Regions from separate parts of the Homo sapiens genome. Here regions 1 and 2 are each linked to region 3. Evidence: fine-mapped expression QTL. A gene starts in region 3. Each other region holds a variant in brackets. All regions are shown on one strand. Distances are between the middles of the regions.

Evidence for each region.
Region 1: its variant is fine-mapped to the expression of ICAM1 in blood mononuclear cells (TOPMed, PIP above 0.99).
Region 2: its variant is fine-mapped to the expression of ICAM1 in whole blood (TOPMed, PIP above 0.99).

What each region holds. Positions count from the first base shown.
Region 1 is chr19:10,292,043-10,300,862 of GRCh38, forward strand. ICAM5 (intercellular adhesion molecule 5) reads left to right here. Exons shown (of 11, transcript NM_003259.4): 4 at 1-280; 5 at 570-824; 6 at 956-1,204; 7 at 1,656-1,901; 8 at 1,998-2,276; 9 at 2,359-2,598; 10 at 3,304-3,570; 11 at 4,297-4,736. The coding sequence ends at 4,574. Among named protein-coding and RNA genes, the nearest start is that of ICAM5, 6.5 kb to the left of the region's middle. RefSeq lists enhancers at 1-757, 7,592-7,841, silencers at 385-484, 7,521-7,685 and a cis regulatory region at 7,400-8,232. The variant C/G (reference allele first, on the strand shown) is at 4,880.
Region 2 is chr19:10,301,297-10,309,757 of GRCh38, forward strand. It overlaps ZGLP1 (zinc finger GATA like protein 1), which reads right to left. Exons shown (of 5, transcript NM_001409033.1): 1 at 8,053-8,461; 2 at 6,889-7,254; 3 at 4,550-4,656; 4 at 4,094-4,187; 5 at 3,507-3,912. The coding sequence starts at 8,189. The coding sequence ends at 3,795. It overlaps FDX2-ZGLP1 (FDX2-ZGLP1 readthrough), which reads right to left. Exons shown (of 9, transcript NR_176052.1): 5 at 8,053-8,461; 6 at 6,889-7,254; 7 at 4,550-4,656; 8 at 4,094-4,187; 9 at 3,507-3,912. Among named protein-coding and RNA genes, the nearest start is that of ZGLP1, 4.3 kb to the right of the region's middle. RefSeq lists an enhancer at 3,566-4,765. The variant G/A (reference allele first, on the strand shown) is at 4,472.
Region 3 is chr19:10,265,407-10,275,289 of GRCh38, forward strand. It overlaps ICAM1 (intercellular adhesion molecule 1), which reads left to right and starts at 5,714. Exons shown (of 7, transcript NM_000201.3): 1 at 5,714-5,820; 2 at 9,359-9,622. The coding sequence starts at 5,754. LIMASI (lncRNA inflammatory and mucous response associated, antisense to ICAM1) reads right to left here. Exons shown (of 4, transcript XR_007067138.1): 2 at 1,284-1,388. RefSeq lists a silencer at 2,627-2,921 and enhancers at 5,276-5,365, 6,276-6,515.

The DNA of each region.
Region 1 (8,820 bases), 26 kb after region 3:
CCGGATGCCCCGCGCCTCGCTGCTCCCCGGCTCTTGGAAGTTGGCTCGGAAAGGCCCGTGAGCTGCACTCTGGACGGACTGTTTCCAGCCTCAGAGGCCAGGGTCTACCTCGCACTGGGGGACCAGAATCTGAGTCCTGATGTCACCCTCGAAGGGGACGCATTCGTGGCCACTGCCACAGCCACAGCTAGCGCAGAGCAGGAGGGTGCCAGGCAGCTGGTCTGCAACGTCACCCTGGGGGGCGAAAACCGGGAGACCCGGGAGAACGTGACCATCTACAGTAAGGAAGGAGGCGGGGTCTCCGCGGCTCCGAGGTGGGACCAGAGGAATGCGAAGGCGGGGCGAAGAGTGGGCGGGACCTCAGTACCGGAACAGGCGTGGCCCGAGGGGCGGGGCAGGTGGGGGCGGAGACGTAATCGCTGGGGAGGAGGAGCCTGTACAGCCTGAGAGGCGGGGCGCCGTACCCTAGTTCGTTCTCAGCACCCCGAGGATTCGGGCAGATAAGGGGCGGGCCTTGACCGGAGGGAGGGGTATGGTCAGTATACTACGACCAAATGCTCCGCCCCCAGGCTTCCCGGCACCACTCCTGACCCTGAGCGAACCCAGCGTCTCCGAGGGGCAGATGGTGACAGTAACCTGCGCAGCTGGGGCCCAAGCTCTGGTCACACTGGAGGGAGTTCCAGCCGCGGTCCCGGGGCAGCCCGCCCAGCTTCAGCTAAATGCCACCGAGAACGACGACAGACGCAGCTTCTTCTGCGACGCCACCCTCGATGTGGACGGGGAGACCCTGATCAAGAACAGGAGCGCAGAGCTTCGTGTCCTATGTGAGTTGGTGATAACCCCTCGCCCCCCACCTTCTGGTGACTTCCAAGGACCCGCCTGCTCCCTCACCGTGTCGTGGAGGCGGAGCCATTTCTTACGTCTAAGCCTCTGTAACCCCACGCCCTGCCCGCAGACGCTCCCCGGCTAGACGATTCGGACTGCCCCAGGAGTTGGACGTGGCCCGAGGGCCCAGAGCAGACGCTGCGCTGCGAGGCCCGCGGGAACCCAGAACCCTCAGTGCACTGTGCGCGCTCCGACGGCGGGGCCGTGCTGGCTCTGGGCCTGCTGGGTCCAGTCACTCGGGCGCTCTCAGGCACTTACCGCTGCAAGGCGGCCAATGATCAAGGCGAGGCGGTCAAGGACGTAACGCTAACGGTGGAGTGTGAGTGGGGGTGCGCAGGGTGCATTTCTATCTGGTTCAAGGTCTGGAGGGTGGCCAGCCTCCAGGGAAGAGTAGGAGTAGGGTATGAGGTGTCCCTTTGGGTGAGGTTTTGGGAAAGGGAAGAGGCTGGTTAGTGGGGTTGGAGAAAGATCTTGGAGGATGGAAGGGACCGGGTGGGCGTGCCCCTAGCCTAGGGCGTGGTATTTGGGCGGAGTCGTGGAAAGGCGGGCAGTCCAGAGTGTTTAAGTTTTTAGACGAAAAAGGCGCCACTGGTGGCTCAGGAAGCTCCCAGACAGAGTGCATGCCTCGACTAGCGTGACACCTCCTTGGATCGGCGTCCAAGGGTTATGCAGGGACAACACTTCGTGGAAGCCTTGCCGCGCCAAGGAGGGTCTAGGGACGTCAGATTTGCCCCCAAACCCCAAAGCCAACAATACACTCCCTCCTCCAGACGCACCAGCGCTGGACAGCGTGGGCTGCCCAGAACGCATTACTTGGCTGGAGGGAACAGAAGCCTCGCTGAGCTGTGTGGCGCACGGGGTACCGCCGCCTGATGTGATCTGCGTGCGCTCTGGAGAACTCGGGGCCGTCATCGAGGGGCTGTTGCGTGTGGCCCGGGAGCATGCGGGCACTTACCGCTGCGAAGCCACCAACCCTCGGGGCTCTGCGGCCAAAAATGTGGCCGTCACGGTGGAATGTGAGTAGGGGCACCGCGGAGTTAGGCAGGATCTGTGGGACAACCCCGGCTGGACTTCCTGGCCCCCGTGTGAGCCCCTGCAATCCTGTTTCCCAGATGGCCCCAGGTTTGAGGAGCCGAGCTGCCCCAGCAATTGGACATGGGTGGAAGGATCTGGGCGCCTGTTTTCCTGTGAGGTCGATGGGAAGCCACAGCCAAGCGTGAAGTGCGTGGGCTCCGGGGGCGCCACTGAGGGGGTGCTGCTGCCGCTGGCACCCCCAGACCCTAGTCCCAGAGCTCCCAGAATCCCTAGAGTCCTGGCACCCGGTATCTACGTCTGCAACGCCACCAACCGCCACGGCTCCGTGGCCAAAACAGTCGTCGTGAGCGCGGAGTGTGAGCGAGGCCCAGGCGGGTAGGGAGCAGGGGTGCCCCACGGTCCAGGCACTCCCTGACATCCCCCATGGCTGCTTTGCAGCGCCACCGGAGATGGATGAATCTACCTGCCCAAGTCACCAGACGTGGCTGGAAGGGGCTGAGGCTTCCGCGCTGGCCTGCGCCGCCCGGGGTCGCCCTTCCCCAGGAGTGCGCTGCTCTCGGGAAGGCATCCCATGGCCTGAGCAGCAGCGCGTGTCCCGAGAGGACGCGGGCACTTACCACTGTGTGGCCACCAATGCGCATGGCACGGACTCCCGGACCGTCACTGTGGGCGTGGAATGTGAGTGGGGGCAGCACCGGATGGAGGGGACACGGTCCTCGGAAGAATGACTCGCAGCGGTGGGAGCATTCAAGGGCACCTCTCCCAATCCCATTCTCGGGGACAGGGAATTCCAGCCTAAACCAGGGGGTAATGAAAATTCTAGCCAGGCGCAGTGGCTCAGGTCTGTAATCCCAACACTTTGGAAGGTTGAGGCGGATGAATCACTTGAGGCCAGGAGTTCGAGACCAGCCCGGCCAACATGGCGAAAACCCGTCTCTACAAAAATTAGCCGGTCGTGGTGGTGGGCGCCTGTGGTCCCAGCTACTTGGGAGGCTGAGGCAGGAGAATCGCTTGAGCCTGGGAGGCAGAGGTTGCAGGGAGCCGAGATCCCGCCACTGCACTCCAGCCTGGGCAACAGAGTGAGACTCTTTCTTAGAAAAACAGAAAAAGAAAATTATAGGGAATAGGAGCACGGCCCTCCTCAAATCCTGGATTAGAACACTGACCTGGGCTTCACCTCCTTCCATTCGGTGAAGAAGGGCGAGGAATTTTAGCCGCAACAGCAGCCTGATTGTCGGGGAAGGAGGCTCTGATAGGAGGCAGGATCCTCTTCTGCCCATCAGAGGCGCGGTGGTCTCCCATCGATCGTTGTGGGCCGGAGCAGGGCATTTGATCAGTGGCTGGGCCGGCGCTAAGCCCCACTTCACCTTCTGTGCCCTTCAGACCGGCCAGTGGTGGCCGAACTTGCTGCCTCGCCCCCTGGAGGCGTGCGCCCAGGAGGAAACTTCACGTTGACCTGCCGCGCGGAGGCCTGGCCTCCAGCCCAGATCAGCTGGCGCGCGCCCCCGGGGGCCCTCAACATCGGCCTGTCGAGCAACAACAGCACACTGAGCGTGGCAGGCGCCATGGGAAGCCACGGCGGCGAGTACGAGTGCGCAGCCACCAACGCGCACGGGCGCCACGCGCGGCGCATCACGGTGCGCGTGGCCGGTAAGTGGCAGCTGGGGAGAGGCGGGGCGAGGTATCTGAGAGGGGGCGTGACCTGGGTCTTGGGGCGGCCGGCCCCGCCTGCCTCCCTCTCGGTCCCGGTAGACTAGACGGAAGTGGGACAGAGTAGAAGTCAAAGGTGCCTTAGCGGGTGGGGCTGTTGATCGCACTTTGAGGGGTGGGAGATGGAGGTGGCAGGGGGACTGAATTCAAGGGGAGGGACCCTCCGGGGCTGTCACTGCTGCAGGAAAGGACTTTAAAACTTGGGCTGGATTCTGCGTGGTGGAAACTTGACCCAATTCACAATCCACTGTGGGGAAGATTGGGGAGGGACCAAAGTCATTGGATGTTGGAGGGAGAGAGGGGTCAAGATCGCCTTCTCTCACTTCCTGAAGCTCCTGGGGCTGGGTTCTCTCTGGGGTCGGGGGAACCTGACCTGGTCCTGCCGGTCCTCATTTTTTGGGGGATGGGGAGAGTTGACTTGTCGCCAGGGGGCTAAGTGTGGTCACGGGTTTATATCCCCATGGGCTGAAGTGCGATATAAATCGGGACTCGGGTCGCCCTGGCACTGGGAGTGGCCTTATTGCATGGGTTGTCTCCCTTCTCCCAAGGCCAGACAGTGAGCTCCCCGGGGCATGAGGACTGACTTCGTGCCTGTGGGAGTGCGGGGGGCGGTGGGAGAAGCCCCCCGGAGCTTGGCCACCCTCCGCGAGGGTCTCCACCCCGCAGGTCCGTGGCTATGGGTCGCCGTGGGCGGCGCGGCGGGGGGCGCGGCGCTGCTGGCCGCGGGGGCCGGCCTGGCCTTCTACGTGCAGTCCACCGCCTGCAAGAAGGGCGAGTACAACGTGCAGGAGGCCGAGAGCTCAGGCGAGGCCGTGTGTCTGAACGGAGCGGGCGGCGGCGCTGGCGGGGCGGCAGGCGCGGAGGGCGGACCCGAGGCGGCGGGGGGCGCGGCCGAGTCGCCGGCGGAGGGCGAGGTCTTCGCCATACAGCTGACATCGGCGTGAGCCCGCTCCCCTCTCCCCGCGGGCCGGGGGACGCCCCCCAGACTCACACGGGGGCTTATTTATTGCTTTATTTATTTACTTATTCATTTATTTATGTATTCAACTCCAAGGGCGTCACCCCCATTTTCTACCCATCCCCTCAATAAAGTTTTTATAAAGGAACTCCCTGTCTCCGCTTCTGTTTCTGCAAGGTGGAACAAGCCCAGGGTTCCAGTCGTGACCTCCCGAGTTATTCATTCAAAAAGCGATTTTTGAGAGGGCCTGGGGTGGTGGCTTAGGCCTGTAATCCCAGGACTTGTGGGAGG[C/G]CCAGGTGGGAGGATCCCTTGCACCCAAGAGTTTCAGACCAGCCTGGGCAACATAGGGAGACCCTACAAAAAATATTTTTCAAAAATTAGCCAAGGCCGGTCGCGGTGGCTCATGCGTGTAATCCCAGGACTTTGGAAGGCCGAGGCGGCCAGATCACGAGGTCGAGGTCATGAGATCGAGACCATCCTGGCCAATATGGTGAAACCCTGTCTCTACTAAAAATACAAAAATTAGCTGGGCATGGTGGTGCGCGCCTGTAGTCCCAGCTATTCGGGAGGCTGAGGCAGGAGAATCGCTTTAACCCCGGAGGCAGAGGTTGCAGTGAGCCGAGATCGTGCCACTGAACTCCAGCCTGGCGACAGAGCGAGATTCCGTCTTAAAAAAAAAACCAGGCGTGGTGGCTCACGCCTGTAATCCCAGCACTTTGGGAGGCCGAGGCGGGCGGATCACGAGGTCGGGAGATCGAGACCATCCTCGCTAACACGGTGAAACCCCGTCTCTACTAAAAATACAAAAAAAAAAAAAAAAAAAAAATTAGCCGAGCGTGGTGGCGGGCGCCTGTAGTCCCAGCTACTCAGGAGGCTGAGGCAGGAGAATGGCATGAACCCGGGGAGCAGAGCTTGCAGTGAGCCGAGATCGCGCCACTGCACTCCACCCTGGCAGACAGCAAGACTCCGTCTCAAAAAAAAAAAAAAAAATTAGCCAGGGCCGAGCACAGTACTCTCGCTTGAATCCCAGAACTTTGGGAAACTAAGGCGGGGGGGGGGGGTCACTTGAGGTCAGGAGTTCGAGACCACCCTGGCCAACGTGGTGAAACACCTTCTCTACCAAAAATACAAAAAAATTAAGGCCGGGTGAAGTGGCTCACGTCTGTAATCCCAGCACTTTGCGAGGCTGAGGCGGGCGGATCATGGGGTTAGAAGATCAAGACTGTCCTGGCTAACATGGTGAAACCCCGTCACTACTAAAAACACAAAAATTAGCCGGGCGTGGTGGCACATGCCTGTAGTCCCAGCTACTCAAGAGGCTGAGGCAGGAGAATCGCTTTAACCCCGGAGGCAGAGGTTGCAGTGAGCCAAGATCGCACCACTGCACTCCAGCCTGGGCAATAGAGCGAGACTCTGTCTCAAAAAAAAACCAAAAACAAAAACAAAAAAATACAAAAATTTAGCTGGGCTGTAGTGGCACACGCCCTGTAATCCCAGCTACTCGTGAGGCTGAGGCAGGAGAATTGCTAGAACCCGGGAGGTAGAGATCTTGCCATTGCACTCCAGCCTGGGCAACAGAACTAGACTCTGTCTCAAAAAAAAAAAAAAAAAAAAAAAAGTGTTTTTTGAGGGGGCTGGGCATGGTGGCTCAAGCCTGTAATCCCAGGACTTTTGGGAGGCCCAGGTGGGAGGATCCCTTGTGCCCACGAGTTTCAGACCAGCCTGGGCAACATAGCGAGACCCTACAAAAAAACATGTTTCAAAAAAAAATTTTTTTTTTTGAGATGGAGTCTCGCTCTGTCGCCCAGGCTGGACAGCAGTGGCACTATCTCTGCTCACTGCAAGCTCCGTCTCCCGGGTTCATGCCATTCTCCTGCCTCAGCCTCCCAAGTAGCTGGGATTACAGGCGCCTGCCACCACACCCAGCTAATTTTTTTTTGTATTTTTAGTAGAGATGGGATTTCACCGTGTTCGCCAGGATGGTCTCTATTCCTGACCTCGAGATCCACCCGCCTCAGCCTCCCAAAGTGCTGGGATTACAGGCGTGAGCCACCGCGCCCGGCCTCAAAAAAAAAATTTTTTTTTTGAGATGGAGTCTTGCTCTGTCACCCAGGCTGGAGTGCTGTGGTGTGATCTTGGCTCACTGCAACCTCTGCCTCCTGGGTTCAAGCAATTCCCCTGCCTTGGCTTCCCAAATAGCTGGGACTATAGGCATGCACCACCACACCCAGCTAATTTTTGTATTTTTAGTAGAGACAGGGTTTCACCATGTTGGCCAGGCTGGTCTCGAACTCCTGACCTAAGGTGATCCACCTGCCTCGGTCTCCCAAAGTGCTGGGATTACAGCTGTAAGCCACCATGCCTGGTGTATTTTTCAAAAATTAGCCAGACATGGTGGTGCATGCCTGTAGTCCCAGCTACTTGGGAGGCTGAGGCAGGAGGATCCTTTGAGCCTAGGAGGTCAAAGCCACTTCCAGCTATGATATCGTCATTGTGCTCCAGCCCAGGTGACAGAACCAGACCCTGTCTCTAAAAACAAACAACGAAAAAATCCAAAAACTTTTTTTGAACACCTACTATGCATCAGGCACAATCTAAGCTGTCTTTTTCTTTTTCTTTTTTTTTTTTTTTTGAGACGGAGTCTCTCTGTCGCCCAGGCTGGAGTGCAGTGGTGTAATCTCAGCTCACTGCAAGCTCTGCCTCCCACGTTCAAGCGATTTTCCTGCCTCAGCCTCCTGAGTAGCTGGGATTACAGGCGCGCGCCACCACTACGCCCGGCTAATTTTTGTATTTTTAGTAGAGACAGGGTTTCACCATGTTGGTCAGGCTAGTCTGGAACTACTGACCTCGTGATTCACCTGCCTCGGTCTCCCAACGTGCTGGAATTACAAGCCTGAGCCACTGTGCCTGGCCCGGCTGGCTGTCTTTTCTCAGTGTGACCTAGAGCTCGTCCTCTCTCAGTGCCTGTTTTCTGCTCTCTTCACACCCTTGGGCAGGGGTGGGGGCCTCACTCCTTCCTCCTACTTATCTCTTCCACCCAGCACTGCCCTCTGATCCGGGTCACTCTTGGAGGTGGGGGCTAGGTGCTTCCCCCAGGCCTGGTTACCGGCAGAGCTGAGGCCGCCTTGCCAGGGTGGGTGGAGGCCCTCTCCGTTGTGCCCCTGCCCTGAGACTTCGGTGAGACCTTCCTGGGCAGGCACTGGCTGATGCTATGGGTGTCAGCCCTTAGCATGTCCTCCCTGTTAAAGGGGGCACCCCTGCCCCGCCCTCAATGCCTCCTTTGTCCTGTGTCCACCCACAGTGCTTCAGTTTACCCCCACCCTGCCTTTCCACTCAGCCCATCATGATTCAGAACAGACACACACAGGGTATCCGCTGCAACCCCCACTACACGGCACCTTCCCCCCTCATCCCCAACAGCATAAGGCACAGCAGCTGGGCCTCCTCCCCACAGCCTCCTCCTCTGCCCCTCCTCCCTCAAAAGCAGGAACACGGAGCCCTAGAGAAGGAAGCCAGTCCCATGCAAACATGTAATGAGCAAAGATGAGACGGGGAAATGGCACAAGAGGGCAGGCCAGTGCTCGGTGCTGGAGCCAGGGGCCAGGTATAACACCCAAAAAGGCACCAGCCAGGTGCAGTCCCTGCCACTAACAGCACCTCACCTTTTCTGCCTGTGCCCTCCCTACTTAATGATCTCTCTCCGCTCCTACTGACCTCAAGGTCTCTTTCAGAGCCTTCAGATGAGATATTTATTTTAGTAGGTTGGTGCAAAAGTAATTGCTGTTTTTGCCATTGAAAGTAATGGCAGGCAGGGCATGGTGGCTCACGCCTGTAATCCCAGCACTTTGGGAGGCCGAGGTGGGCAGATCACGAGGTCAGGAGTTCAAGACCAGCCTGGCTAACATGGTGAAACCCTGTCTCTACTAACAATACAAAAAAAATTAGCCGGACATGGTGGCACACCCCTGTAGTCTCAGCTACTTGGGAGGCTGAGGCAGGAGAACTGCTTGAACCCTGAAGCGGAGGCTGCAGTGAGCTGAAATCACGCCACTGCACTCCAGCCTGGGCCACAGAGTGAGACTGTCTCAGAGGAAAAAAAAAAAAAAAAAGTAATGGCAAAAACTGCAATTACTTTTTCTTTTTCTTTCTGTTTTTTTTTTTGTTTGTTTGTTTGTTTGTTTGTTTGTTTGAGACGGAGTCTCACTGTGTGGCCCAGGCTGGAGTGCAGTGGC
Region 2 (8,461 bases), 35 kb after region 3:
ATTTTGTCCACGCTGGTCTCGAACTCCTGACCTCAAGGGATTCGCCCACCTCAGCCTCCCAAAGTGCTGGGATTACAGGCATGAGCCACCACGCCCGACCTCCTTAACTCTTTTATTTCCTTGCACACTTTTTCTCTGTAGCCCAGCTCACAACTTAACATCCTCTTAGACATACACCTGAGGTTTTTTTTTTTTTTTTTTTTGAGAGGGAGTCTCTCTCTGTCACCCAGGATGGAATGCAGTGGTGTGCTCTCAGCTCACTGCAACCTTGCAACCACTGCCTCCCAGGTTCAAGCAATTCTCCTGCCTCAGCCTCCCGAGTAGCTGGGACTACAGACACATGCCGCCACACCTGGCTGATTTTTTGTTTTTTAGTAGAGACAGGGTTTCACCGTGTTGCCCAGGCTGGTCTCAAACTCCTGAGTTCAGGCAGTCCGCCTGCCTTAGCCTTCCAAAATGCTGGGATTACAGGCATGAGGCACCGCGTCCTGCCTCTGAGTTTTTTTTTTTTTTTTTTTTTTACTGTCTCCTAGAACATCAGCCCCAGTAGAGCAGGGATCTTTGTTCTGTTCACCACTGAGGGTCCTCATTGGGTCCTAGCACACACAGTTGCTCAATAAATGTTGAATAAGTGGGTAAAGACAGCCACGAGCTTGCAGATATGTGTTCAAGGTGTGTCCTTGCAGAGAGCTTCTCTATACTTGGCACTGGAGAGGCCTGTCGTGGGCAAGGACATAGATGTGGCGACCTCAGACTTGAGAACTCCTGGGGCAGTAGGGGAGATGGATGTGGATAATGTAACCATAAGCCTTCCTTTCTATTTTAGACTGAGTGGTCAAGGAAGGCTTCCAGACAATGGAAATTCTGATAGGTTCTAAGAGGGAGACCAGCAAGGAGCTGAACCGGAGGCTGACACAGGGTGAGAGTGGGAATGTCTATTTTATTTTTTTTTTGGAGACAGGGTCTCACTCTGTTGCTCAGGCAGCAGTGCAGTGGCACGATCGTGGCTCACTGCAGCTTCAACTTCCCAGACTCAAGTGATCCTCCCACCTCAGCCTCCCAAGCAGCTGGGAATATAGGTGCATGCCACCACATCCGGCTAATTTTTGTATTTTTGGTAGAAACGGGGTTTCACCATGTTGCCCAGGCTGGTCTTGAACTCCTGGGTTCAAGTGATCTTGCTGCCTTGGGCTCCCAAAGTGCTTGGATTACAGGTGTGAGCCTGTGAGCCACATCTGGCCTATTTTATTTTTTAATTAGTTTTTTGTTTTTGTTTTTGTTTTGAGATGGAGTCTCTGTCTCCAAGGCTGGAGTGCAGTGGCACGATCTCGGCTCACTGTAACCTCCACCTCCCAAGTAGCTGGGATTACAGGCACATGCCACCACGCCTGGCTAATTTTTGTATCTTTAGTAGAGACAGGGTTTCCCCATGTTGGCCAGGCTGGTCTCGAACTCCTGACCTCCGGTGATCCACCTGCCTCAGTTTCCCAAAGTGCTGGGATTATAGGAATGAGCCACTCTGCCTGGCTGGGCATGTGTCTTGTTTTTTTCATTCTGTAGATAACAAGCAATTGTCCTCCCTCAGCCTCCCAAGTAGCTGGTACTACAGGCGCCTGCCACTACGCCCGGCTATTTTTTGTAGTTTTAGCAGAGGTGGGGTTTCACCATGTTAACCAGTCTCTAACTCCTGACCTCAGGTGATCCTCCTGCCTTGGCCTCCCAAAGTGCTGGAATTACAGGTGTGAGCCACCAAGCCCAGCCTCAAACTCCTGAGTTTAAGTGATCCTCACACCTCAGCCTCCCTGAGTGCTGGGATTACAGGTGTGAGCCACCACACCCGGCCTGAGTCGGGGGAGGTGTCTATTTTAGTCTGAGTGGTCAAGGAAGGCTTCTCTGAAGAGCTGATGTTGGGGCCAGGCCTCCTCAAGCGATTAGAAGGTGTCAGCCATGGGGAGATGTGGAGGGAGGGTGTTTCAGGCCAAGGAAGGGTAAGATCAAATAATTCAGGGATCTGAGGGCAGAGGAATCTGGACTCCAGTTCTCCCATTCAGGGCTGCCCAGGAGAGACAAAGAGGATCTCATAAGGGTGTGTGGCTTTGTGGCTCACTCACGCCCACAGCAAGGACCATGCCCACCCTACTTTTTTTTTTTTCCCCAAGTCTCCCTCTATTACCCAGGCTGGAGTACAGTGGTACGATCACGGTTCACTGCAGTCTTGACCTCCAGGGCTCAAGTGATCCTCCCACCTCAGTGTCCTGAGTAGCTGGCACTACAGGCATGCACCACCACCCCTGGCTCATTTTTTGATTTTTTGGTAGAGACGGGGTCTCACTGTGTTACCCAGGCTGGTCTCAAACTCCTGGGCTCAAGCGATCCTCCCACCTCTGCCTTCTGAAGTGTTGGGATTACAGGTGTGAGCCACCATGCCCAGCCCGCCACCAGTCTTGACTCTCCATCCTCCCTCCCTCCCTGTGAGTGCTGGTGGCCTGTGTGTCCCGCCTGCTGAAAGATGCCTCTGACTTGGGGCTTTTGACTTCAGGCCCGGGAGACACATTTTGGCTGGATTAGGGAGATCTTAAAAGGGGGTAGGGGACACAGCAGGGGCTAAGGAGAGTGACACACTGCAGGCAGGGGTTGGGTGACAGATGAAGGATCCACTGGTATATGCTGCCAGTGTGTGCCATCTACTTGTGTGTTTTACGTGTGTCTGGTGCATGTGTCCTGTGTGGGCTGTATCTGTGTGTGACTCAGCTACGTGTCAGCATATCCCTGTCGACGTGTGTCTCTGCTGATGTGTCTGTCAGCACGCACGGCTGTCTTGCATGTGTCTTTTTTGAGATAGAGTCTCGCTCTGTCACCCAGGCTGGAGTGCAGTGGCACGATCTTGGCTCATTGCAACCTCAACCTCCCAGGTTCAAGCGATTCTCCTGCCTGAGCCTCCCAAGTAGCTCGGATTACAGGCACATGCTACCACGCCTGGCTAATTTTTGCATATTTAGTAGAGACGGGGTTTCATCATGTTGGCCAGGCTGGTCTCGATCTCCTGACCTCAGGTGATCCACCTGCATCAGCCTCCCAAAGTGCTGGGATTACAGAAATGAGCCACTGTGCCTGGCTAGACATGTGTCTTTTTTTTTCCCTTCTGTATATAACAGGGTCTCACTATGTTGCCCAGGCTGGTCTCAAACTCGTGGCCTCAAGCAATCCTCCTGCCTCAGCCTCCCAAAGTGTTGGGATTACAGGCGTGAGCCACTGCACCCGGCTTGTGTGTGTCTTTCTGTATCTGTTGTGTGTGTCTGTGGGTAGTGGCTGTTTCCCTGCATGGGACATTGTGGTAAATGTGGCTAATTCCCTGTGTGGGGGCTGCTGCCTGTGGATAAGACTGTGTCTCTGTGCATGCGCACGTGTGTGCACGCCCCTCACAACCCCAACGAGAAAACACCTGTCCACCTTCCTGGGCTGGCACAGGGGCACAGGAGGCGGGATCCCAAATCACAGGCTTTTTCTCTCGGCATATCTCTGTACTTTATTGTCCCTGCTGTAACAATGCTCATCCTTCCTGAGAGCGTCTCCTGAGGGGGCCTCGGCCAAGGCTGACTGGAGAAGGGGCTGGTGACCCCTAGCAGGCTCTGCCACCTGAGGCCTGGGTCTTCCCCCGGGATCCTTGAATCTGGAGATGGCAGAGAGGAGGCAGGCCGGCTCTTTCCCCAATCCTCCTAGGAGAGCTGCTTCTGCCCATTCTCCCACTGGTGAAACGGAGGCAGAAGCAGCAGCTCAGCAGGGTGAAGCTGGGTTTAACCTTCCTGAATGGGGTCCAGGGACACTCCACATCTGCCACATAGCCTCTTGGGCTGGACATTTTTCCTGGGCACCAGCCAGCAGCTGGAGCAGCGAGTGCCGTATTTCTTGTACCTAGGGTTGGGGGACAAGAAACTGCCATTTAGGATGCAGTGGGGGCCCGGAAACCGCCACAAGGAAACCACTTTTCCCAAGAGGTAGGTGTTTTGCTTTTTGCTTTCCCCACAGGCCATCCTGGTTACACGTGGACTGATTTGGGGACCCCCGCCCCAACTCCCTCCTCCATTCTAAGGACCTGATCCCACAGGCGTTGCAGAGAGGGGTCCCATCTTCAGCGTCTCTCCAGAGCGGGGTCCTCTGGGTCCGACAGGAAGCACAGCGCCGGGGCTCTGAAGGGTCAGAGGTCAAAGGGCAGGGGTCAGAGGCCAAGCATGTGAGCTCGGGATGCCTGTGCGGAGTCGGGCATTTTGTGGGGGTCTCAGTAAAGGCCCCACCTAGCTCTGGATCAGCCCTGGGAGTTGCCAGCTCTAAGCCACAGCAAAGCCAGGAAGGGAGACAGATGGCAGCATTCCGCAGAGGAGGAAGCTGGGGGTGGGGGTGACTCAGCCCAAGTGGAGGGGGGTGCTGCGACTCCTCCCTGAGGGCTCTAAATGGGGAAGCAAGATGGAGAAGG[G/A]GGGGGCAGGGAGAAAGGCAGGGAAGACAGGAAATTGGCCCCCAAAATATTTATAGCTCTTGGGTTTTCAGGACTCACCCAGGGCCTCGCTGCCTGCTGAGTGGGCCTCGGTGCCTCCTGGGTGGGCTGCAGGGCCCCCAACAGCATCTGCAGGGGATTCCTGAGAACGGCTACTGCAGGGCAGGCTGTGGGGCAGACAAGGTATTAGCACTGGGGGGGATCTGTAGCTTGTCCCCAACAGCCCTCCGAAATGAAGATTTAGTATCAAGGTATCAGCCATCCCCCGAGGAGGCAACTAATATCTGAATGGCCTGGCTTTGCCTCTCATTAGTAATATTATTATTATTATTATTATTATTTTTGCAGATGGAGTCTCGCTCTGTTGCCCAGGCTGGAGTGTAGTGGTGTCATCTCAGCTCACTACAACCTCCACCTCCCGGGTTCAAGCAATTCTTGAGCCTCAGCCTCCCAAGCAGCTGGGACTACAGGCGCGCGACACCACGCCCAGCTAATTTTTGTATTTTTAGTACAGACGGGGTTTCACCATGTTGGCCAGGCTGGTCTCGAACTCCTGACCTCAAGTGATCCACCCACCTCGGCCTCCCAAAGTGCAGGGATTACAGGCATGAGCTACCGTGCCCGACCTAATTATTATTATTATTATTTGAAAAATAGTAAGCACAGGGACAGCCTGCCAGGTTCCAATCCCAGTTCTCCATGTCCTTGCTGTGTGAGCCTGGACACATTATCTCCTACTCTGTGCCTCAGTTTCCTCATCTGTAAAATGGGCTTCCCAATACAACAGTTTTTTTTTCTTTGAAAATTTGATTTATTGATTTTTAAAAAGAGATGGGAGTCTGGGCAATATAGGGAGACCCCGTCTCTACAAACAAAAAAAATAGCCAGGAGTGGTGGTACAGGCCTGCACTCCCAGCTAGTTGGGAGGCTGAGGAGGGAGGATGGCTTGGGCCTGGGAGGTCCAGGCTGCAGTGAGCCATGATTGCGCCACTGCACTCCACCCTGGGTGACAGAGCAAGACCCTGTCTCAAAAACAAACAAACAAACAAAAGCAAAAAAAAGCAGCCAGGCATGGTGGCGGCTCACTCCTGTAATCCCAACACTTTGGGAGGGCAAGGCAGATGGATCACCTGAGGTCAAGAGATCGAGACCATCCCGGCCAACATGGCAAAACCCCATCTCTACTAAAAATACAAAAATTAGCCAGGCGTGGTAGCAGGCACCTGTAATCCCAGCTACTCCAGAGGCTGAGGCAGGAGAATCGTTTGAATCCGGGAGGCAGAGGTTGCAGTGAGCCGAGATTGTGTCATTGCACTCCAGCCTGAACGACAGAGTGCAACTCCATCTCAAAAAAAAAAAAAAATATTGTTTTGGCGGCATGATTAAAAAAGTCATAATTATAATTTTTATAATAACAATAAATAGGTAAAAATTAGAGCTGGGGGTCATACTATGTTGCCCAGGCTGGTCTTGAACTCCTGGGCTCATGCAATCCTCCCACCTTGGCCTCCCAAAGTGCTGGGATTACAGGTGTGAGCCACCAGGCCCAGCTTCCCAAAGCTTTTTTTTTTTTTTTTTTAAGGGGATGGAGTCTTGCTCTGTCACCCAGGCTGGAGTGCAGTGGTGCCATCTCTGCTCAGTGCAACCTCCACCTCCTGGGTTCAAGCGATTCTCCTGCCTCAGCCTCCCAAGTAGCTGGGATTACAGGTGCCCATTACCATTCCCAGCTAGTTTTTTTTTTTTTTTTGAGACTGAGTCCCACTCTGTGGCTCAGGCTGGAGTGAGGTGGCGCTATCTCTGCTTACTGAAGACTTCACCTCCTGAGTTCAAGCGATTCTCCTGCCTCAGCCTCCTGAGCAGCTGGGATTACAGGCACCCACTACAACGCCCAGCTAATTTTTTGTATTTTTAGTAGACATGGGGTTTCACTATGTTGGCCAGGCTGATCTCAAACTCCTGACTTCAGGTGATCTGCTCGCCTTGGCCTCCCAAAGTGATGGGATTATAGGCGTGAGCCACTGTGCCCGGCCTCCCCAGGCTTTTGAATGAGCCCATACACATAAAATACTGCCTGTTAACCTCTTATTGTTGTCACTACCAACAAATAGTAGCTGTTAGCATTATTGGGAAAAATCACCGCAGCCGCAGCTGCAGCCTAAGCAAGGCCAGGCCTGATTCCTAAAGAGACCAGGTCTCACATTGGGAGTGGGGAGCCACTGAGTCAGGAGCGGCAGGACTGTATCTGGCACCAGCTCAAGTTGTCAACCAGAGACTGGGCCACGTGTAACGTAGAGCACAGGTGAGGGTCCACACCGACGCCAGAGAGCACCCCTACCTCCCACACTGGTGTTTGCGTTGTAACTGGGAGAAAGGGCGGCCTGGCCCCAGCCGGCCCCTACCTGTACGTGGGGATGATCTGCAGGCTGGAGTCCGGCTTTATCTGAAACTTCAGAGTCACCCCCTCGAACCCAGGGTCCACTCTCTCGGTGCCCCGGCAGGGGTTCAGCTGTTTCCGGGGCCTTCTCTGGGGTGGGGCCGAGGGAGTCCCCGGGGGCTGCAGACGGCGGCCCTTTTGGCTGATCCTGGTCTGTGTGTCCTTGGAATCCCTGTCCAGCAGCAGGCGGCCCTGAGTCCCCAGAGCCATCGGGTCCCAGCAAGGCCCCAGGACCGGGGTGTCCTGGGCAGGGGACTGACCCAGCCTCTCCACTGTCTCTTGGAGGAAGCACAGGGCGGTGACCGACTCCTGGCATGCAGGCCAGAGGGACCTGGGGAGAAGGGCAGTGGGGTCACGTTTTCTTGGGTGACTCCTGGGTTTAGCCGGCCAGGGGGTTCCAACTTGGGCCGGCTCTTTGTGTACCCTTGGACAGGCTACACACCCCACCTGAGGTTCAGTCATTTCTAACTCTGGGTGGAAGGTTTAAGAGTTGCAGTAATTGCAACTCACCTCGCCCACTGTGGGCCTCCCAGGCACGCCCAGCCCTCCACATCAATCAACCCCTTACGGCACCCGTAGATCACCCAGGCAGGGACCGCCCTAGGTGACCGAGGCAGGATATCAAGCCTCTGGCTGCAGGATCGAGAAAAAGGTTACTTTTTTTCTTTGTGTTTCTTTTAGAGACCGAGCCTCACTCTGTACCCCCGCCTGGAGTGCAGGGGCGTGATCAGGACTCAGTGCAGCCTAGAACTCCTGGGCTCGACCGATCCTTCCGCCTCAGCCTCCCGAGTAGCTGGGACTTACAGGCACGCGCCACCACGCCGCTGGCTTGCCATAATATGATTACGATTTTTATCATTTTCATTATTATTGAGTTGCCCTCCATAACCCCTGGATGATCCCTGGGGAGTGCCTACATCAGCCCCAGAGACATGGAATTGCATGGCCTCTGATCCCTAGATGACCCCAAGTGTCTCTGGGCACCAGAACCTCTTTGTAAGTTTCAGTAACTATTATAAAATTGCCACTTCTCGATAACCCCAGCAAAGAGAGGTCATGACCCCTTGATCACTGAGCCAGGTGGTGAAGTGCTAGCGGGGTCCGGGGAATGGGGTTTGGCCTTACGCACCTCTCACTGATTCTGCAGCATCCTGGGGTCCTCGGCTTCTCCTGGGAGGGGGATCCTCCCAGCCGCTCCAGGTTCAGACAGGGCGGCGCCAGAAGCTTTGCTGGCATTGAGGAGTCCGGGATTGGCTCGGCCTCCATTGCGCCCCAGCCCAGCCCCCTCCCTAATTTCACCCGGCCCTGTCCCGCTGGGCCCACCCGATGAAACCCACCTGGGAGGGGCGGGACCTGTGTGGTGGGAGCGCTCTTGGTAGAGGATGCGATGAGCCCCAGCTGAGAGCGACCAGCCTCGGCGGCACCTTTCCTCTTTCTGGCTTTTTTCAGGTCATCCGCGCACCCCTGCGTGGCAAGGGCGGCCTGGACCCCACCAAATCCCTCCGCAGCTGCCGGGGCGGGGCCTTCCACGCTAGCCC
Region 3 (9,883 bases):
AACTACACAAAAATGATAATCAGATAAATATGCATTTATTTAGAGAACTGCATGTTGGTCAGTCCAGTCCCTGCAGAGGGAATTCCCAGCATGACCTCATTCACTTGTGAAGACAGAGCAATCCTTGTGTTTTATTTTTTTAAGATGGATCTCACTCTGTTGCCCAGACTGGAGTGCAGTGGCATGATCTCAGCCCTCTGCCACCTCCACCTTCCGGGTTCAAGAGATTCTCATGCCTCAGCCTCCTGAGTAGCTGAGATTACAGGCTTGTGCCTCCATGCCCAGCTAATTTTTTTATTTTTACTAGAGATGAGGTTTCACCAGTTTGGGCAGGCCGGTCTCAAACTCCTGACCTCAAGTGATCCACCCACCTCGGCCTCCCGAAGTGCTGGGATGACAGGTGCCTGGTCAGCAACTGTTGTTTAGACATACACATTTTATCTGCTCGTCCAGCATGGTCAGCCCTCCACTTTTTAAATTTTATTTTATTTATTTTTTTGAGACAGAGTCTCACTCTGTTGTCCAGGTTGGAGTCCAGTGGCGTGATTTCGGCTCACTGCAACCTCTACTTCCCAGGTTCGAGCAATTCTCCTGCCTCAGCTTCCCGAGTAGCTGGGATTACAGGCCCGCGTCCCCACACCTAGCTAATTTTTGTATTTTTAGTAGAGACAGGGTTTCACCATGTTGGCCAGGCTGGTCTCGAACTCCTGACCTCAGGTGATTCTCCTGCCTTGGCCTCCCAAAGTGCTGAGATTACAGGTGTGAGCCACTGCACACGGCCTTAAATTTTATTTATTATTTATTTATTTATTTATTTAGAGACTTAGTCTCACTCTGTTGCCCAGGCTGGAGTGCAGTGGCATGGTCTCGGCTCACTGCACTCCACCTCCTGGGTTCACGCCATTCTCCTGCCTCAGCCTCCCGAGTAGCTGGGACTACAGGCGCCCACCACCACTCCCGGCTAATTTTTGTATTTTTAGTAGAGATGGGGTTTCACTGTGTTAGCCAGGATAGTCTCGATCTCCTGACCTCGTGATCCGCCTGCCTCGGCCTCCCAAAGTGCTGGGATTACTTATTTTGTTTTTTGTAGAGACAGGTTCTCACTGTGTTGCCCAGGCTGGTCTTGAACTCCTGATCTCAAGTGATCTTCCCACCTCAGTCTCTCAAAGGGCTGGGATTACAGGGGTGAGCCACTGCACCCCACCTTCCCTCTACTTTTTGACGGTTTCCTTCTGCTATGAATGTGCATGTCCAGTTGTCTGCTTCTTAGAACTGATATTTACCTTCCTCATCCATCAGCCATTGGAGGAGGACTGGGACCGCTCAGATTATTGATCTGACCCATTCTTTCGGCAGGGTTTCCTGGTGGCTGTCTTCCATCACCAAAACTGGAATCAGAAGAGTTTCCATAGCCCTTTTTTTTTCCCCACATCTTTGCTGAAGCAGAGTTTTGAAAAACAAAACCACAAACTAAGCTATTCCCCAGAAGAAATCTGTAATCAAAGATAAGCTCTGCCGGGCACAGTGGCTCACGCCTTTTGGAGGCCAAGGCGGGCGGATCACCTGAGGTCAGGAGTTCTAGACCTGCCAGGCCAACATGGTAAAACCTCATCTCTACTAAAAATACAAAAATTAGCTAGATGTGGTGGTGGGTACCTGTAGTCTCAGCTACCTGGGAGGCTGAGGCAAGAGAATCGCTTGAACCTGGGAAGTAGAGGTTGCAGTGAGCCGAGATTGCACCACTGCACTCCAGCCTGGGCGACGGAGTGAGACGACCTCACAAAAATTTACATAAATAAAATGAAAAGTAAAATAAAAATACAAAAGTTGGCCGGGTGCGTTTGCTCACGCCTGTAATCCCAGCACTTTGGGAGGGTGAGGCAGGCAGATAATGAGGTAAGAAGATCGAGACCATCCTGGCTAACACGGTGAAACCCTGTCTCTACTAAAAATACAAAAAATTAGCTGTGCGTGGTGACACGCACCTGTAGTCCCAGCTATTTGGGAGGCTGAGGCAGGAGAATCACTTGAACCTGGGAGGTGGAGGTTGCAGTGAGCCGAGATCGCACCACTGCACTCCAGCCTGGGCCACAGAGTGAGACTCCATCTTGAAAAAAAAAAAAAATACAAAAGTTAGCCAGGGGTGTTGGTGGGTGCCTGTAATCCCAGCTATTTGGGAGGCTAAGGCAGAAGAATTTCTTGAACCTAGGAAACGGAGGTTGCAGTGAGCCGAGATCACACCTCTGTACTCCAGCCTGGACAACAGAGCGAGACTTTGTCTCAAAAAAAAAAAAAAAAAAAAAACTAAATAGGCCGGGAGCAGTGGCTCATGCCTATAATCCCAGCCCTTTGGGAGGCCAAGGCAGGTGGATCACTTGAGGTCAGGAGTTTGAGACCAGGCTGGCCAACATGGTGTAACCCCGTCTCTACTAAAAACACAAAAATTAGCCGGGTCTGGTGGCGTATGTCTGTAATCCCAGCTACTCGGGAGGCTGAGGCAGGAGAATCACTTAAACCTGGGAGGCAGGGGTTGCAGTGAGCTGAGATCGTGCCACTGCACTCTAGCCAGGGTGACAGAGTGAAACTCTGTCTCAAAAAATTAAAAAAGAAATTCAGCAAGTAATGAGTTAAGGAATTCGAATATTAAGGCGAGTGACAAGGAACGCCCAGGATGTGGCCCAGGATGGAGTAGGGGGGACACTCATTTAGGAGAAAGCTCAGGCCACAAGACAGGAGGAGCCAGCCTTGTTGGGGTTGAAGGGAAGAGCATTCCAGGCTGAGGGAACTGCAAGGCGTTTGCATGGGACACTATGGGATGGCTTCTGCCCTTGGTGGGCAGCCTCTGGTCTGAGGCCATTCTTTGGCCTGCCTGACTGTCTGGCAACCGGGAGGAAGCCCTGCCCTTCCTGGAGACAGAAACAAAGGTCTAGGAAATATCTGCTTCCCTTTTCCTTGAAAAACGCTTAAGGGAACGGAGGACTGGGAGGTGCCGTCTCTCTCTGCCAGCCTGCCCCCTACCATAGCCATCCCACTCCCATCTCAGAAAGTGACCCGCCATCCTCCAAAAGGCTCGGACCCTGATCAAGGAGTCATCCCCCTTGTCCCAGCACCTCCAGTTGGCCCAGCCTCCAAAACGGATGTCAAATTCAGCCCTTTCTCCAAGGACACTGCCCAGTCCAGGCCCCACTATCATTCATCTGGACTAGAACAGTCACCTCCTCTCCCATCTCCTGGCTGCAGCTCTTGAAGCCTCAACTGGGCCCCTGTGAACACTTGAGTTAGGGCAAGGTCCTTCCTCTGCTCAGAACCCTCTATACCTCCCACCTCGCTGGGCATAAAAGCCAAAGTCCTGGCCAGGCACGGTGGCTCACATCTGTTATCCCAGCACTTTGGGAGGCCAAGGGGGGCGGATCACTAGAGGTCAGGAGTTAGAGACCAACATGGTGAAACCCCATCTCTACTAAAAATACAAAAATTAGCTAGGCGTGGTGACGCACCCCTGTAGTACCAGCTACTCGGTAGGCTGAGGTGGGAGAATCGCTTGAACCTGGGAGGCAGAGTTTGCAGTGAGCCGAGATCACACCACTGTGCTCCAGCCTGGGTGACAGAACGAGACTGGGGTTCAGAAACAAACAAACAAAACAACAAAGTCCTCCTCAGGTGACAGGAACTTGCACCTATCTGCCCTGTCATCTCCCTGCCCGCTCCTCTCCTCGAATCTCTCCTTTGCTAAGCCTGCTCCAGCCACACTGTTCTCCTGGCTGTTCCTTTTTTTTTTTTTTTTTTTTTTTTTTTGAGTCTCACTCTCACCCAGGCTGGAGTGCAGTGCCTCTATCTTGGCTCACTGCAACCTCCGCCTGCCGGGTTCAAGAGATTCTCCTGCATCAGCCTCCCAAGTAGGTGGAATTACAGGTGTGCACCACCACACCCGGCTAATTTTTGTATTTTGCATAGAGATGGGGGTCTCCCTATGTTGCCCAGGCTGGTCTTGAACTCCTGGGCTCAAGTGATCCTCCCATCTCGGCCTCCCAAAATGCTGGGATTACAGGTGGGAGCCGCGCCCAGGTGGATTTTTGTCTGACTCTGTTCATTCCTGTGTCCCCAGTACCTGGAAGGACGCCAAGCACACAGTAGGCGCTTAAAAAACATTGAGCCACATGTTGAGAAAAGAACGGCACCATTGTGGCTGCAAGTGGGACTTGGGCCGCGCGGGGGAGCTCGCGCACCTCGGGCCGGGGCAAGAGCTCAGTGGAACCCGCCCGAGGAAGAACCCGTGGCGCAGGATTTTCCCAGGCCTTCTGAGGACCAGGGGCGTCCCCCGTCCCACCCTGTGACTTTGCTCAGGCCGTTCCGGGGCGGGAATTCAGAACTCCTCAGCCCCCCAAGAAAAAAATATCCCCGTGGAAATTCCTTGGGAATGACCGAGGCGGGGGAAATATGCGTCTCTGGATGGCCAGTGACTCGCAGCCCCCTTCCCCGATAGGAAGGGCCTGCGCGTCCGGGGACCCTTCGCTTCCCCTTCTGCTGCGCGACCTCCCTGGCCCCTCGGAGATCTCCATGGCGACGCCGCGCGCGCCCCACAACAGGAAAGCCTTAGGCGGCGCGGCTTGGTGCTCGGAGACTTAAGAGTACCCAGCCTCGACGTGGTGGATGTCGAGTCTTGGGGTCACACGCACAGGCGGTGGCCAAGCAAACACCCGCTCATATTTAGTGCATGAGCCTGGGTTCGAGTTGCCGGAGCCTCGCGCGTAGGGCAGGGGTTCGAGCGCCCCTTCTCCCTGCCTCGCCTCTGCGCCTGGGGGCTGCTGCCTCAGTTTCCCAGCGACAGGCAGGGATTTCGAGCGTCCCCCTCCCCTCCCTCGTCAAGATCCAAGCTAGCTGCCTCAGTTTCCCCGCGGAGCCTGGGACGCCAGCGGAGGGGCTCGGCGCGTAGGGATCACGCAGCTTCCTTCCTTTTTCTGGGAGCTGTAAAGACGCCTCCGCGGCCAAGGCCGAAAGGGGAAGCGAGGAGGCCGCCGGGGTGAGTGCCCTCGGGTGTAGAGAGAGGACGCCGATTTCCCCGGACGTGGTGAGACCGCGCTTCGTCACTCCCACGGTTAGCGGTCGCCGGGAGGTGCCTGGCTCTGCTCTGGCCGCTTCTCGAGAAATGCCCGTGTCAGCTAGGTGTGGACGTGACCTAGGGGGAGGGGCATCCCTCAGTGGAGGGAGCCCGGGGAGGATTCCTGGGCCCCCACCCAGGCAGGGGGCTCATCCACTCGATTAAAGAGGCCTGCGTAAGCTGGAGAGGGAGGACTTGAGTTCGGACCCCCTCGCAGCCTGGAGTCTCAGTTTACCGCTTTGTGAAATGGACACAATAACAGTCTCCACTCTCCGGGGAAGTTGGCAGTATTTAAAAGTACTTAATAAACCGCTTAGCGCGGTGTAGACCGTGATTCAAGCTTAGCCTGGCCGGGAAACGGGAGGCGTGGAGGCCGGGAGCAGCCCCCGGGGTCATCGCCCTGCCACCGCCGCCCGATTGCTTTAGCTTGGAAATTCCGGAGCTGAAGCGGCCAGCGAGGGAGGATGACCCTCTCGGCCCGGGCACCCTGTCAGTCCGGAAATAACTGCAGCATTTGTTCCGGAGGGGAAGGCGCGAGGTTTCCGGGAAAGCAGCACCGCCCCTTGGCCCCCAGGTGGCTAGCGCTATAAAGGATCACGCGCCCCAGTCGACGCTGAGCTCCTCTGCTACTCAGAGTTGCAACCTCAGCCTCGCTATGGCTCCCAGCAGCCCCCGGCCCGCGCTGCCCGCACTCCTGGTCCTGCTCGGGGCTCTGTTCCCAGGTGAGTCGGGGTGGGGATTGCCGTCGGGCCAGTTCTCCGAAGCCCCGGGAGGACCGGCTCCCGGGTCAGGTCATGCATGCTTAGGTAGCTGTTTATGGGAAGGAGGGGCTAGAGACAGCGATTGAAAGGCAACAGCCAGTAGGTTCGAATCCAGACCCTGCATACCTCCACGTGTGGCCTTGGGCTATAGATTGCAGCTTTAAAAAAGGGTAGGGGGTTGGAGATGGAGGGGAGGGGCGGGCCTCGTTTTGTTGCCCAGGCCGGTCTTGAACTCCGGGGGTCTAGCCTTACCTCCTGCCTCAGCCTCCCGAGTAGCTGGGATGAGAGGTGTGAACCACCGCCTTGCTTGGCTAGATTGCGTCTCTTACAGTTTCTCAGCTGTAAAACGGGAAACGTTATAGCGGCCACCTGGCAGGGTATCTTGGCCCAGCGCAGCACCTGGCCCCAGGACTCGATCATGATGGTTTGGGAACTTGGCTCTGTGCCAACCCAACAAGGCTTAAGGGACCCCCACCCCCCTCAAGATGTATATTCTGTTCCTCATCCTCTCTGCCCCTGGGGAAGTCCAGGGCTGCTTCTACTTGGGGGAATTCCAGAGCTGACTTATCCGTGGCCCAAAGCTGAGAAGTGGGACGCCCCAGCACACCCTCCCCCAGCTCCAGCCCAGCTAGGGAAGAGGGAAGGGGTCAGAGGGTCTTTCATGGTGGTGTAAGTTTGGGGAACCAGGAGGGTGGGAGATTGACAGCTTGGTTAACAGCTCAACAAAGCCTGAGATCCAGGCCAGCACGGTAGTTCATGCCAGTAATCCCAACACTTTAGGAGCCCCAGGCGGGCGAATCACTTAAGGTCAGGAGTTTGAGACCAGCCTGGCCAACATGGCAACATCCCGTCTCTACTAAAAATACAAAAATTAGCTGGCATGGTGGTGGGCGCCTGTGATCCCAGCTGCTCGGGAGGCTGAGGGAGGAAAATCCCTTAAGCCCACGAGGCTGAGGTTGCAGTGAACCAAGATTGTGCCACTGCACTCCAGCCTGGGAGACATAGCGAGATTCTGTCTCAAAAAACAAAGCGTTCTGATCCGGACTCAGACCCAGATCGCACTGCTTTCTAGCTGAGTAACCATTTCTCTCTATGAAATGGGAATGGTCCCAGAATCTCCCTTGGAGAATGTATGGAGCCAGTGTCCTCACACCCCCATCCAAGATAGAACAAATCTGAGACAGGAATCTTTGAGTGAGGCAGTGCTGGGCTCAGACATTTTTTCCCACCTTCGGAGGCAGCAGAATCTGAGGGACCTGATCCAAATAAGCCCCTTCTTTCTTTCTTTTCTTTTCTTTTTTTTTTTTTTTTTTTTTTGAGACGGAGTCTCACTCTGTCGCCCAGGCTGGAGTGCAGTGGCGTGATCTCGGCTCACTGCAACCTCTGCCTCCCAGGTTCAAACGATTCTCCTGCCTCAGCCTCCCTGAGTAGCTGGGACTACAGGCATGTGCCATCACACCCGGCTAATCACTGTGTTAGCCAGGATGGTCTCGATTTCCTGACCTCATGATCTGCCCACCCTGCCTCCCAAAGTGCTGGGATTACATGCGTGAGCCACAGTGCCCACCCCGTAAGCCCCTTCTTTCTTACCTGCAAGGTAGCCAGTTGCTACCCATCCTGTGCTGAGTTACTTGTATTAGCAAGGGATGGGGTGGCTATACTCACCCACCTTACAGATGGGGAAATTGAGGCCCAAAGAGGGGGAAACTACGTGTCTCAGGGAGTGAGGAGCCAGTCTGATTCCTGGAGGGCTGACTGTCTCCACCTGACTTCTTAGGAGGGAGGAGGGCACCAACTTCACATTAAAATCTGGTTGGACACAGTGGCTCACACCTGTAATCCTGGCATTTTGGGAGGCTTAGGCGGGAGGATCACTTGAGGCCAGGAGTTTGAGACCAGCCTTAGCAACATAGTGAGACCCCATCTCTACAAAAATGTTTTTCAGGGCCAGGCGCGGTGGCTCACACCTATAATCCCAGCACTTTGGGAGGCTGAGGCGGGCGGATTACCTGAGGTCAGGAGTTTGAGACCAGCCTGACCAACATGGAGAAACCCCGTCTCTACTAAAAGTACAAAATTACCCGGGCGTGGTGGCGCATGCCTGTAATCCCAGCTACTCGGGAGGCTGAGGCAGGAGAATCGCTTGAACCTGGGAGGCGGAGGTTGCGGTGAACTGAGATCGTGCCATTGCACTCCAGCCTGGGCAACAAGAGCTAAACTCCGTCTCAAAAAAAAAAAAATGTTTTTCAAATATTAGCCGGGTATGGTGGTGTCCTGTAGTCCCAGCTACTTGGGAGGCTGAGATGGGAGGATCACTTGAGCCCAGGAGTTCAAGGTTACAGTGAGCTATGATTGTGCCACTGTATTCCAGCCTGGGTAACAGAGGGAGACCCGTTTAAAAAAAAAAAAGTGATGGCTAAAGTCCTTCCATGGCTCCCTATTGCCCTCAGTATAAAGAACACATGTGGCTGGGCGTGGTGGTTCACGCCTGTAATCCCAGCACTTTGGGAGGCTGAGGCGGGCGGATCACTTGAGGCCAGGAGTTTGAGAGCAGGCTGGCCGACGTGGCGAAACCCCGTCTCTATTAAAAATACAAAAATTAGCTGGGCGTGGTGGTGCTTGCCTGTAATCCCAGATACTCTGGAGGCTGAGGCAGGAGAATCACTTGAACCCGGGAGGCAAAGGTTGCAGTGAGCTGAGATTGCGCCACTGCACTCCAGTCTGAGTGACAAAGCGAGACTCCATCTCAAAAAAAAAAAAAATAAAAGAACACATCTTTAGCATGGCCTTCAGTGCTCACGGGATCTTCCTGAATTAATCTCCCCCTCTTCATCCTTGCTCACTCAGCTCCAGCCACCCTGCCCCGGGACATCTGTACTTGCCTGGAACTTATTTCCCTTTTCTCCGGACAGCCAGCCCTTTCTCGTCATTTAGATCTCTGCTGAAACATTACCCTGTCACCAAAGCACTGTCTATTCTATCACCCTGTTTTGTTTTTGTCAAAGCTCATATTAACATCAGTTATTAATTATCTTGTTTGCTCATAATTTTTTTTTTTTTTTTTTTGGAGACAGAGTCTCGTTCTGTTGCTCAGGCTGGAGTGCAGTGGCACAATCTTGGCTCACTGTAACCTCCACCTCCCAGGTTCAAGTGATTCTTGTGCCTCAGCCTCCCAAATAGCTAGGACTACAGGCACGTCCCACCATGCCCAGCTAATTTTTGTATTTTTAGTGGAGACGGGGCTTTGTCATGTTGGCCAGGCTGATCTCAAATTCCTGACCTCAAGTGATCTGCCCGCCTTGGCCTCCCAAAGTGCTGGGATTACAGGCGTGAGCCACCACACCCGGCCTGCTCATGAATTTTCTCTTTAACTTCCACATCGAAGGCAAAGTATTGTCTTGTTAAGGCTGTGCCTCCAGCACCCAGCACAGGCTGGGCGCACATTCCCTTGATGAACCTGATTTGTAATGCCTGTCGCCTCTTCCCTCGTTTCTTCTAGGACCTGGCAATGCCCAGACATCTGTGTCCCCCTCAAAAGTCATCCTGCCCCGGGGAGGCTCCGTGCTGGTGACATGCAGCACCTCCTGTGACCAGCCCAAGTTGTTGGGCATAGAGACCCCGTTGCCTAAAAAGGAGTTGCTCCTGCCTGGGAACAACCGGAAGGTGTATGAACTGAGCAATGTGCAAGAAGATAGCCAACCAATGTGCTATTCAAACTGCCCTGATGGGCAGTCAACAGCTAAAACCTTCCTCACCGTGTACTGTGAGTAACTGAGCCCGGAGGGCTGGACTAGGCAGACCCGGTGGGAGAGACGTGCAGGGGCACCTGCAGAGGCCTGGGGGAATCTTTGCCACTTGCTCGTAGGGTCAAGGAGGGGCTCCTTGCAGGGCAGGTGGGGACATCCTTGGAAAGTCCCTTTGTGAATTTCTTTGGGTACAATTAAAGTATTTACAGGCTGGGTGCGGTGGCTCATGCCTGTAATCCCAGCACTTTGAGAGGCTGAGGCTGGCGGATCACCTGAGA